Linked DNA regions of Homo sapiens: region 2 is linked to region 1. The links come from fine-mapping of genetic effects on gene expression. A gene starts in region 1. The other region holds a variant in brackets. All regions are shown on one strand. Distances are between the middles of the regions.

Evidence for each region. PIP is the estimated chance that this variant, and not a neighbour inherited with it, causes the effect.
Region 2: its variant is the best candidate, but not a certain one, in a credible set for the expression of TRIM65 in tibial artery (GTEx, PIP 0.57).

Annotation. Positions count from the first base shown.
Region 1 is chr17:75,894,294-75,899,293 of GRCh38, reverse strand. TRIM65 (tripartite motif containing 65) reads left to right here and starts at 2,343. Exons shown (of 6, transcript NM_173547.4): 1 at 2,343-2,770. The coding sequence starts at 2,357. MRPL38 (mitochondrial ribosomal protein L38) reads left to right here. Exons shown (of 9, transcript NM_032478.4): 8 at 1-136; 9 at 308-650. The coding sequence ends at 444. RefSeq lists enhancers at 1,209-1,916, 1,917-2,626 and silencers at 1,994-2,473, 2,504-3,073.
Region 2 is chr17:75,945,626-75,950,972 of GRCh38, reverse strand. ACOX1 (acyl-CoA oxidase 1) reads left to right here. Exons shown (of 14, transcript NM_004035.7): 9 at 9-199; 10 at 1,076-1,255; 11 at 1,373-1,478; 12 at 1,613-1,756; 13 at 2,516-2,722; 14 at 4,178-5,347. The coding sequence ends at 4,225. Among named protein-coding and RNA genes, the nearest start is that of FBF1, 7.3 kb to the right of the region's middle. The variant A/C (reference allele first, on the strand shown) is at 2,458.

The DNA.
Region 1 (5,000 bases):
TATCAGCTGGCCCAGCGGACCTTCCGCACTTTTGATTTCTACAAGAAACACCAAGAAACCATGACTCCAGCCGGCTTGTCCTTCTTCCAGTGCCGCTGGGATGACTCCGTCACCTACATCTTCCACCAGCTTCTGGGTAAGGGCCATGGGGCTGGGGCACTGGGTGGGCCTGAGCTCCCAGGCCTCGCCTGCCCTGCCAGGGAGAAGCTTTGTTAGGGGAAGGCTGCGGCAGGTCCCTGGTGGGCAGGCCTCAGCCTGAGGGGGCGCAGGCCAGCAGACCACCCCGTACCCCTCACTCTTCTTGCAGACATGCGGGAGCCGGTGTTTGAGTTCGTGCGGCCGCCCCCTTACCACCCCAAGCAGAAGCGCTTCCCCCACCGGCAGCCCCTGCGCTACCTGGACCGGTACAGGGACAGTCATGAGCCCACCTATGGCATCTACTAAGGAGCCAGAGTGTGCGCATTTCAGAGCATGGGATTGATCGGCAGCAAGAGTAAAGACACAGCTCCAGAGGCCCACACTGTGGGGTCTGGGCCCTGCCTTAGGCAGCCCCCCTCTTTGGCCCCCTCCCGTCAGGCCCAGGGCTTGGAGTGAAAGTGACTCTCAGGTGGTGGGGTGGGGAATGTGAATAAACATGATTTCTTGCCGGGCTTGGTGGCTCACACCTGTAATTCCAACACTGGGAGGCTGAGAAGGGAGGGTCGCTTGAGCCCAGGAGTTCAAGACCAGCTGGCAATATAATGAGACCCTGCCTGTATTTTTTAAAAAAAGGGATTTCTGCCATAGCTGGCCTGGGTCGGTGCTCCAGGGCCAGAGGACCCCGATGGAGCTTCATGGGTGGGAAACGGGCTGCCTCCCACCCCACTAAGTGCGTCCTCACCTCCGTCTTCTGAGGGTGTCAGGGGCCCTGGGATCCGAAGCAAAAGCAGGCAGTGGGCCAAAAACAGGTGTGGCCCAGGGAAGGGAGACATCCCAATCCAGCAGGTTCCTGAAACCCAGCTCCCCGAAAAAGTGGAGCAGAGCAGCTGGGCTCAGGAAGGAGCATTTATTGAGCACTGGCTCTGTGCCTCAGGGGGGTCCCACCGGCCCCTGGAGAGAGAGTGCCTGCCCGAGCACTGACCCTCTGCACAGGCTCCAGCCCCCACCCCATGCTTGGGAGGAGAAGCCACATTAGGTAGGCAACAGCGTGTCTCAAGAGACCTGCTCAGGGTCAGAAAACCCATGGAGTCTTGCGGCTGGATGGTTAGGTGTTTTGTTTCTCCCTTACCAAAAGCAGAAGTCTGGCTAACTAGTAGGTGGAGGGTAGATCCGTGCACTTTGTCCAGAAAGAAACTTCGTCTATGGCCGCACAGAGGACGCAGTGCTTGCTGCAGCAGTGAGAGCTCGTGCCGCCTCAACATCAGCCCAGCTTGGTTAGAAAGGCCGTACTCTCCTGGGGTTCCCCCTGGCCTGATACACACTGTCAGGTAGGTGGGCGCTAGGCCCCAGACCCGCCTTGCCTGCTCAGCTTCAGGGGAAATGCTGGAGTGCCTGTAAATACTGAGGCTGCAGATCAGCTTGGACCCCAGGCAAGGAACTCTCCCCAGCGGAGGGCAGCAGGAAGAGGGGATGCTGATTGCAGATGAAAGCTGGTTTGTGTATTCATTCAGGGCCATTTGAAAAATACCAGTTAACTGGTCCCTGTCTCTTGGTGACCAGACATTTCCATCTCGCTGTTTACTTTAAAAGAACCAAAATTACGTGTAGCCCAGAGAAGGGAGACACCCCAGTCTGGCAAGTGTCCGAAACCCAGCTCCAGGAAAAAGTGCAGCAGTGCTCGGGTCTGCAGGGAGCCCGCCAGCCCGTTTCATCGCCAAGCCCCGGGGGATTGTTGGGGGTGGGGGTCTATGCTGTTAGGCGACTGGCAGATGAGTCCAGAAGAGGTTCCGCGCGGCCCGTGGTCAGAAGCCCGGAGTCCTGGCGGGGTTTTCGAGCCTCTGGTCTCCAGGACCTGGGCTGAAGGCCCAGGGGGGTGGGATGGACCCGCCAGGCTGGGACCCTAGAGAGCCGAACTCAGCTCTCAGCCGGGGTGGCGTGGACCCTAACGGAGGGAGGGGCGCAAGGCGGGAACGCGGAACCTTCGAGCGGGCCAGGCCGAGGTGGGCAGGGGTGGCCTAGGCCCCTGCGGCGGTCGCTCGTCGAGGGTGTCAGAGAAGGGCCTGCCGCCCCCCTCCGCCTTCCCGGGCGCGGATCTCGCCCCGCCCCGCCCGGATCTCGCCCCGCCCCGCGTTAGCCACGCCCAGGCGCCCTCAGCGCGCGAGGCCCGCGGTCCCTTTAAGACGCCCGGGGCCCGCCTGGCTCTCGCCGCCGCCGGGCCATGGCCGCGCAGCTGCTGGAGGAGAAGCTGACCTGCGCCATCTGCCTGGGGCTCTACCAGGACCCAGTGACGCTGCCCTGCGGCCACAACTTCTGCGGGGCCTGCATCCGGGACTGGTGGGACCGCTGCGGAAAGGCGTGCCCCGAGTGCCGGGAGCCCTTTCCCGACGGCGCCGAGCTGCGCCGCAACGTGGCCCTCAGCGGCGTGCTGGAGGTGGTGCGCGCCGGGCCCGCCCGGGATCCCGGCCCCGATCCCGGCCCCGGCCCCGACCCTGCCGCGCGCTGCCCCCGCCACGGGCGGCCGCTGGAGCTCTTCTGCCGGACCGAGGGCCGCTGTGTGTGCAGCGTGTGCACCGTGCGCGAGTGTCGCCTCCACGAGCGGGCGCTGCTGGATGCCGAGCGCCTCAAGCGCGAGGTGACGCATCCGCCGGGAGCGGGAGGGGTCCGGACCCGCCGCAGCCTGGCCACCGCCGGGTGACTCCTGCGGGCCGCGCCCTGCTCTCTCGGGCACCCGGCGGGGGCGGGGAGCCTCATCTGTAAGGGGCTTCTCCCAACCTGGGAGCTGATTATAAAAGTCGTGGGTCTGCCAGGCGCAGTGGCTCACGACTGTAATCCCAGCACTTTGGGAGGCCGAGGCGGGCGGATCACGAGGTCAGGAGATCGAGACCATCCTGGCTAACACGGTGAAACCCGGTCTCTACTAAAAATACAAAAAGTTAGCCGGGCGTGGTGGCGGGCGCCTGTAGTCCCATCTACTCGGGAGGCTGAGGCAGGAGAATGGCGTGAACCCGGGAAGTGGAGCTTGCAGTAAGCCGAGATCGTGCCACTGCACTCCAGTCTGGGCGACAGAGCGAGACTCCGTCTCAGAAAATAAACAAACAAAAAATCGTGGGTCTGTGCATCAGACTGGGATATGCAGCCCGGCCAGTGACACAGGGTGGGTCTCAGAAGCTGCTCGGTGCCCTCTGGATGAACAAAGCCTGGGCGTGAGGCAGCAGCTCCCTGCTCCGTGCCCAAGCGCTAGAGAACCGTCGTGTGTCTCCTGCGCTCCGAGAGCCTCCTTTCATTCGCTGTGCGGGGTTGTGGAGGGCGAGGGGGCTATGGGGGCTGTTGGTAAATGGATCAGACGAGCTCCCTGCCCTTAAGAGACTTAGAATCCACTTAAGAAGTCAGTGTTCCAGTAAGGCGTGAATGTATTATTACAAAATGCAGTGAGGAAAGCACATGGCATGTGATAGAGGGGTTGGGGTGACCCTGCTAAACGGGCCAGGAGGAGGAAGGGGAGGCCGCCTTCAGGCTGGCATGTGAGGATTGAGGAAGCGCAAGCCAGGAGAAAGACCTGGGGAAGAGCATTCTAGGCAGAGGAATCAGCCTGGTCCCGTCTCTGGGATGGGAAAGAACTGGGCACGCGGGGTCCCTAGTGGCAGATTTGTGCCACTGAGATCTGTGGGCCAGGCCCTGGGGGTCAGCAGGGGCAGGATCGGGCAGGGTCCTGGGGGAGTCTGGCTCTTACTGTAGGGTCATGGGGGCCATTATAGGCTTGGAAGCAGGTTGGCACATGATCAGATTTGGGCTTCATGGAGACTGATCACCTGGCTGGGGGCTGAAGGGGGCAGGATGTAAGACCCGAATCGGGTAGGAGTGCAGGGAGGCAAAGAACCAGCTGGGGATCAGGGAAGGGAGACCAAGATGGAGGAGGAGATGAGAAACGCTGAGGGGAAGTGGTACCTTGTGGAGGCGAAAGCAGGCCAGAGGGGACACGGGGGACAGCAGAGAGGGCGGCAAGGGAGACACCTGGGTTTCTGTCTTGAGCACGCAGGTGGCTGGGGTGCTATGTCCTGAGAGGCGTAGGTGGAGGGCAGAGTTTGGCCTTGGACATATAGAGGTCACAGTGGCCAGTGGGACAAACCAGGGGACGGGCCTGTGGCACCTGGGACCCTGGCCCCAGCCCTGCCGCGCGCTGACCCCGCCCCGGGCAGCTGCTGGAGCTCTTCTGCCAGACCAAGGGCTGTTGTGTTTGCAGCTTGTGCACCATGAGTGAGGGTCACCTCCTCAAGTGGGTGCTGCCGCCAGGAGCAGGAGGGGGCCGGACCCCCCGCAGCCTGGCCACCACCGGGTGCAGTGGCTCACGCCTGTAATCCCAGCACTTTGGGAGGCGGAGGCCGGTGGATCACGAGGTCAGGAGATTGAGACCATCCTGGCTAACATGGTGAAACCCTGTCTCTACTAAAAATACAAAAAATTAGCCAGGCCTGGTGGCGGGCGCCTGTAGTCCCAGCTCCTCTGGTGGCTGAGGCTGGAGAATGGCGTGAACCCGGGAGGCGGAGCTTGCTGTGAGCTCCAAAGCTCAGGAGCGGGGAGCTGGAAGTCGAGAGCTGGGAATCATTAGCGCTAGGAGGAAGAGAAGGTTCCAAGCTGGAGCTCCCAGGGAGATGGGGAAGGTCGGGGGAATGGCAGCCCTGTGTGGCACCTGGAGACAGGGGTGCCAGGAAGAGAACGGGCAGGATGCCCATGCTGATCAGAGGCTCAGTACGAGGACAGAAATGACCTTCAGCATCGGTACTGTGGAGGTGGTCCGTGCCCTTGACAAAACCCATTTCAGCAGCGAAGACAGGATGTGGAATCATTCGGGGACAGAGGAGGCC
Region 2 (5,347 bases), 52 kb before region 1:
CCTCTCAGCTTCATGCCCTCACCGCTGGACTGAAGGCTTTCACCTCCTGGACTGCAAACACTGGCATTGAAGCATGTCGGATGGCTTGTGGTGGGCATGGCTATTCTCATTGCAGTGGTCTTCCAAATATTTATGTCAATTTCACCCCAAGCTGTACCTTTGAGGGAGAAAACACTGTCATGATGCTCCAGACGGCTAGGTGAGAGTCAAATCCTCGATTCCTCCCATCTGTTCATAAGAATGTTCTAGTCCTTTTCCTAGGTTCTTGTTCCCATGGTTTTTCTTCACCGTATATATATATTTGTTCCTGAAAGGTATACTTTTGCCTTCCATCCTGACTCACGGTTTTTATTTCGTGGTGAGGCTAGAGAGTATGAAGCACCTGTTACATAGCTTGCAGTTGTATCAAGGATAGAGTTACTGGGCTGGGCACAGTGGCTCATGACTGTAATCCCAGCACTTTGGGAAGCTGAGGTGGGCAGATCATGAGGTAAGGAGTTCAAGACCAGCTTGATCAACATGGTGAAACCGTGTCTCTACTAAAAAAATACAAAAAAATTAGCCGGGCATGATGGCACATTGCCTGTAATCCCGGCCTACTTGGGAGGCTGAGGCAGAAGAATCGCTTGAACCTGGGAAGCGGAGGTTGCAGTGAGCCAAGATTGCGCTATTGCACTCCATCCTGGGCAACAAGAGCGAAAACTCCATCAAAAAAAAAAAGGCCAGGTGTGGTGGCTTACTCCTGTAATCCCAGCACTTTGGGACGCCAAGCCGGGTAGATCACTTGAGGTCAGGAGTTAAGAGACCAGCCTGGCCAACATGGTAAAACCCTGTCTCTACTAAAAAAACAAAATATTAAAAATTAGCCAGGAATGGTGGCAGGTGCCTGTAGTCCCAGCTACTTGGGAGGCTGAGGCAGGAGAATCATTCATTTGAACCCAAGAGGAGGAGGTTGCAGTGAGCTGAGATCTGGCCATTGCACTCCATCCAGCCTAGGCAACAAGAATGAAACTCCATCTCAAAAGAAACAAAAGAAAGTAGAGTTACTAAAAGCATGTTTACTGGTGACTTTTAGGTTCCTGATGAAAAGTTATGATCAGGTGCACTCAGGAAAGTTGGTGTGTGGCATGGTGTCCTATTTGAACGACCTGCCCAGTCAGCGCATCCAGCCACAGCAGGTAGCAGTCTGGCCAACCATGGTGGATATCAACAGCCCCGAAAGCCTAACCGAAGCATATAAACTCCGTGCAGCCAGGTGAGCTCTCCCTCAAGAGCTAGAATACGCAGCAGTGGGGCTGGGGCCCTGACAGATGGCAAGAAGGCATGAGTACTGTTGATCATTTCCTCAGACCTCCAATCTATGTCTTAACAGATTAGTAGAAATTGCTGCAAAAAACCTTCAAAAAGAAGTGATTCACAGAAAAAGCAAGGAGGTAGCTTGGAACCTAACTTCTGTTGACCTTGTTCGAGCAAGTGAGGTCAGTGGTAGTTCTCTCTTTTTCCCCTTCCCTGCCCTCAGCATCCCGCATTTTCTGGTACAGAAACCCTAGTCACTGTATATTGAATCTTTTTCCAAGGTTCTCAAACTCTGGTGTTTTCTTTTTAATCTTAGGCACATTGCCACTATGTGGTAGTTAAGCTCTTTTCAGAAAAACTCCTCAAAATTCAAGATAAAGCCATTCAAGCTGTCTTAAGGAGTTTATGTCTGCTGTATTCTCTGTATGGAATCAGTCAGAACGCGGGGGATTTCCTTCAGGTCAGTATTTTCTAAGTATAAGTCTTTTTTGTTGTTGTTTTAAGAAAAATAATTGTTGGCTGGGCACGGTGGCTCATGCCTGTAATCCCAGCACTTTGGGAGCCCAAGGCGGGTACGGTGATCACTTGAGGTCAGGAGTTCAAGACCAGCCTGGCCTGGTGAAACCCTGTCTCTACTAAAAATACAAAAATTAGCCAGGTGCAGTGGCACATGCCTGTAATCCCAGCTACTAGGGAGGCTGAGGCACGAGAATCATTTGAACCCTGGAGGCAGAGGTTGCAGTGAGCCAAGATGAAACCACTGCATTCCAGCCTGGGTGACAGAGCAATACTCTGTCTCAAAAAAAAAAAAAAAGAAAAAGAAAAATAGCCAGGCACAGTGGCTCATGCCTGTAATCCCAACACTTTGGCCAAGGCGGGCAGATCACCTGAGGTCGGGAGTTCGAGACCAGCCTGACCAACATGGAGAAACCCCATCTCTACTAAAAATACAAAATTAGCCAGGTGTGCTGGCGCATGCCTGTAATTCCAGCTATTTGGGAGGCCAAGGGAGGAGAATTGCTTGAACCTGGGAGGCGGAGATTGCGGTGAGCCAAGATCACACCATTGTACTCCAGCCTGGGCAACAAGAGTGAAACTCAGTCTCAAAAAAAAAAAAAGAAAAAAATAATTGTCATCCGCTTTATAGCTGTATATGCATAT[A/C]ATTATGTCTATCTATATACATATATATGTTTTATTTACTTATTTTGGTCTCTTTTAGGGGAGCATCATGACAGAGCCTCAGATTACACAAGTAAACCAGCGTGTAAAGGAGTTACTCACTCTGATTCGCTCAGATGCTGTTGCTTTGGTTGATGCATTTGATTTTCAGGATGTGACACTTGGCTCTGTGCTTGGCCGCTATGATGGGAATGTGTATGAAAACTTGTTTGAGTGGGCTAAGAACTCCCCACTGAACAAAGCAGAGGTAAAAATCCAGTGTCTCTGCACCTTTTTAAAAGTCTTCACTTAAATATTGAAGCAGGAAAGGCCTCTCGAAGGGGATTTATCTGTGAAAGCTCTGAAAGTACCATGGCCACTTCTGACAGTCACTTTATTTGAGCAACAGGTTCAGAAGGGAACTGGGTTGTTCCCACAGTAACCAGGGTCTTAATCAATTTCAATTTTTGATAACGAATTGAACATTTAAAAATATATACAGGCCGGGTGCGTTGGCTCACACCTGTAATCCCAGCACTGTGGGAGGCCGAGTGGGCAGATCACCTGAGGTCAGGAGTTCGAGACTAGCCTGGCTAAAATGGCGAAACCCAATCTCTACTAAAAATACAAAAAAAGCAGCCAGGCAGTAATGGTGCACGGCTGTAGTCCCAGCTACTCGGGAATTCTCCTGCCTCAGCTTGAACCCAGGAGAACCCAGGAGGCGGAGGTTGCAGTGAGCCACGTTCGTGCCATTGCACTCCAGCCTGGGTGACAAGAGCAAAACTCTGTCTCAAAAAAAAAAAAAAAGTATACACACACACACACACACACAAATAGAATAAAATATACAAAAAGAGAATTCCGTAGTGCTCTTTGGTACACCCTTTGTCTAGCAGCAATGACTATCAACTCGTGGCTAGTTGTGTTTCATCTGAACCTTCATCCCCCTCCTCCTGGGGACTATTTTGAAATAAATCTAAGACATCAGGGCCAGGCTCAGTGATGCACACCTGGGAGGCCGAGGCAGGTGGATCACCTGAGGTCGGGAGTTTGAGACCAGCCTGACCAACATGGAGAAACCTTGTTTCTACTAAAAATACAAAATTAGCCAGGCGTGGTGGCGCATGCCTGTAATCCCAGCTACTTGGGAGGCTGAGACAGGAGAATTGCTTGAGCCTGGGAGGCGGAGGTTGCGGTGAGCCGAGACCATGCCATTGCACTCCAGCCTGGGCAACAAGAGCGAGGCTCCGTTTCAAAAAAAAAAAAAAAACTAAGACATCAGATAATTTTATCCATAAATAATTCAATGCATAGCTCTAAAAGATAAGGACTCTTCAGAAACAACCACAGGCTGGGCACAGTGGCTCACGCCTGTAATCCTAGCACTTTGGGAGGCTGAGGTGGGTGGATCACTTGAATTGAGGAGTTCTAGACCAGCCTGGCCAACATGGTAAACCCCCATCTCTACAAAAAAATACAAATAGCAGCCAGGTGTCATGGCACACACCTGTAGTTCTAGCAACTCGGGAGGCTAAGGTGGGAAGATCGCTGGAGTCTGGGAGGCAGAGGCTGTAGTGAGCCAAGATTGTGCCACTGCACTCCAGCCTGAGCAACAGAGCAGGACTCAGTCTCAAAAAAAAAACAAAAACAAAAACAAAAAACAGTATACTATTTAACATGGCAAACTCTTTATTAGTAGTTCTTCTCTCTCCTTTCCCCACAGGTCCACGAATCTTACAAGCACCTGAAGTCACTGCAGTCCAAGCTCTGAAGTGTCACAAGGACAAGTTTAATCTGCTTCAGAAAGCGCCTGTGTGCAACTCAAATTTTGTGGAATCTTTTTCGAATTCAAATAGCTATAGAGCAAATGATAAATTGACCCCTTTTTATAAATGGAGGGAAAAAATGAACAGATTTCAGAGATTAAATGAAAAAAAGCAGATGTTTTAAGTGCAATTAACACTGAAAGAGACCTGTTAAACCATTCAGAAAAAGCTTAAGAAATGCGATATGACTTCCTTTTGTAATGCTGCTGATCCCAGTAGACTATGACTTTTGATAATTAGCAGAATTTAACTACTGAGTAGTTGATTATTTTCACATTTTAATTGCTAATCACTGGCTATATAAGTGTTTTTAAGCAAAGGTATTTTTGAAGTGGTGTAGAACCCTTCCAAGCTTTCCTGCTCAGTGTTCTACCAGACTTACCCTGGGGCCTGGCTTAAAAGCAGGATTGAAGAAAAGGGACTGGGGGAAGGAAACTTATTGGAAAACTTGATGCGAATGAGTTTCTGCTTGGCACAGTCTCTGCCTGCTTGCTCTCCTTTGCTGATGGATTGCATTTATCAAACTATTCATGCTAGCATTTTTCCAACGAGGGAACTTATTCCGCACGGGCCTACTGTAGGACCATTGTCTCGTGTAATTAGGAATTTTCCATTTGAAGGATTGCTAAATTGTCACAGTAGTAGGAAGTATAGGGAAACCTCTCAGCTGTGGCACTGTTGTAGCTTTGGAGTGCAGAGTGTAACTCTGGGACAATCAGATTTCACATATTCTGTCATCTTGGCATAAGCCATTAAAAGCTTGGAGATTACTGTATTTGGCATTAAAAAAAAATGTCACTTAGGTCAGCACTCCCAGACGTAGCACAGAAAAACCCTTTGACACAAACCATGTGTTCTGATTTTTGGTTCAGAAAATATTGAAACTGTGAGTTGTTTTTTTTTTAACAACTGGGAAAAAACAAAAACAAAAAACTATAGTTAGAAAAATGGAAGTTCCATAGGTTCTATTTCTTACTCTATGTATGGCTTTGTTTTCAGTCTATTTCTAGGAGCTTTCTCTGAATCGCTAATTGTCCTTTCAGTTGAAATCTAATTTATACAATCAT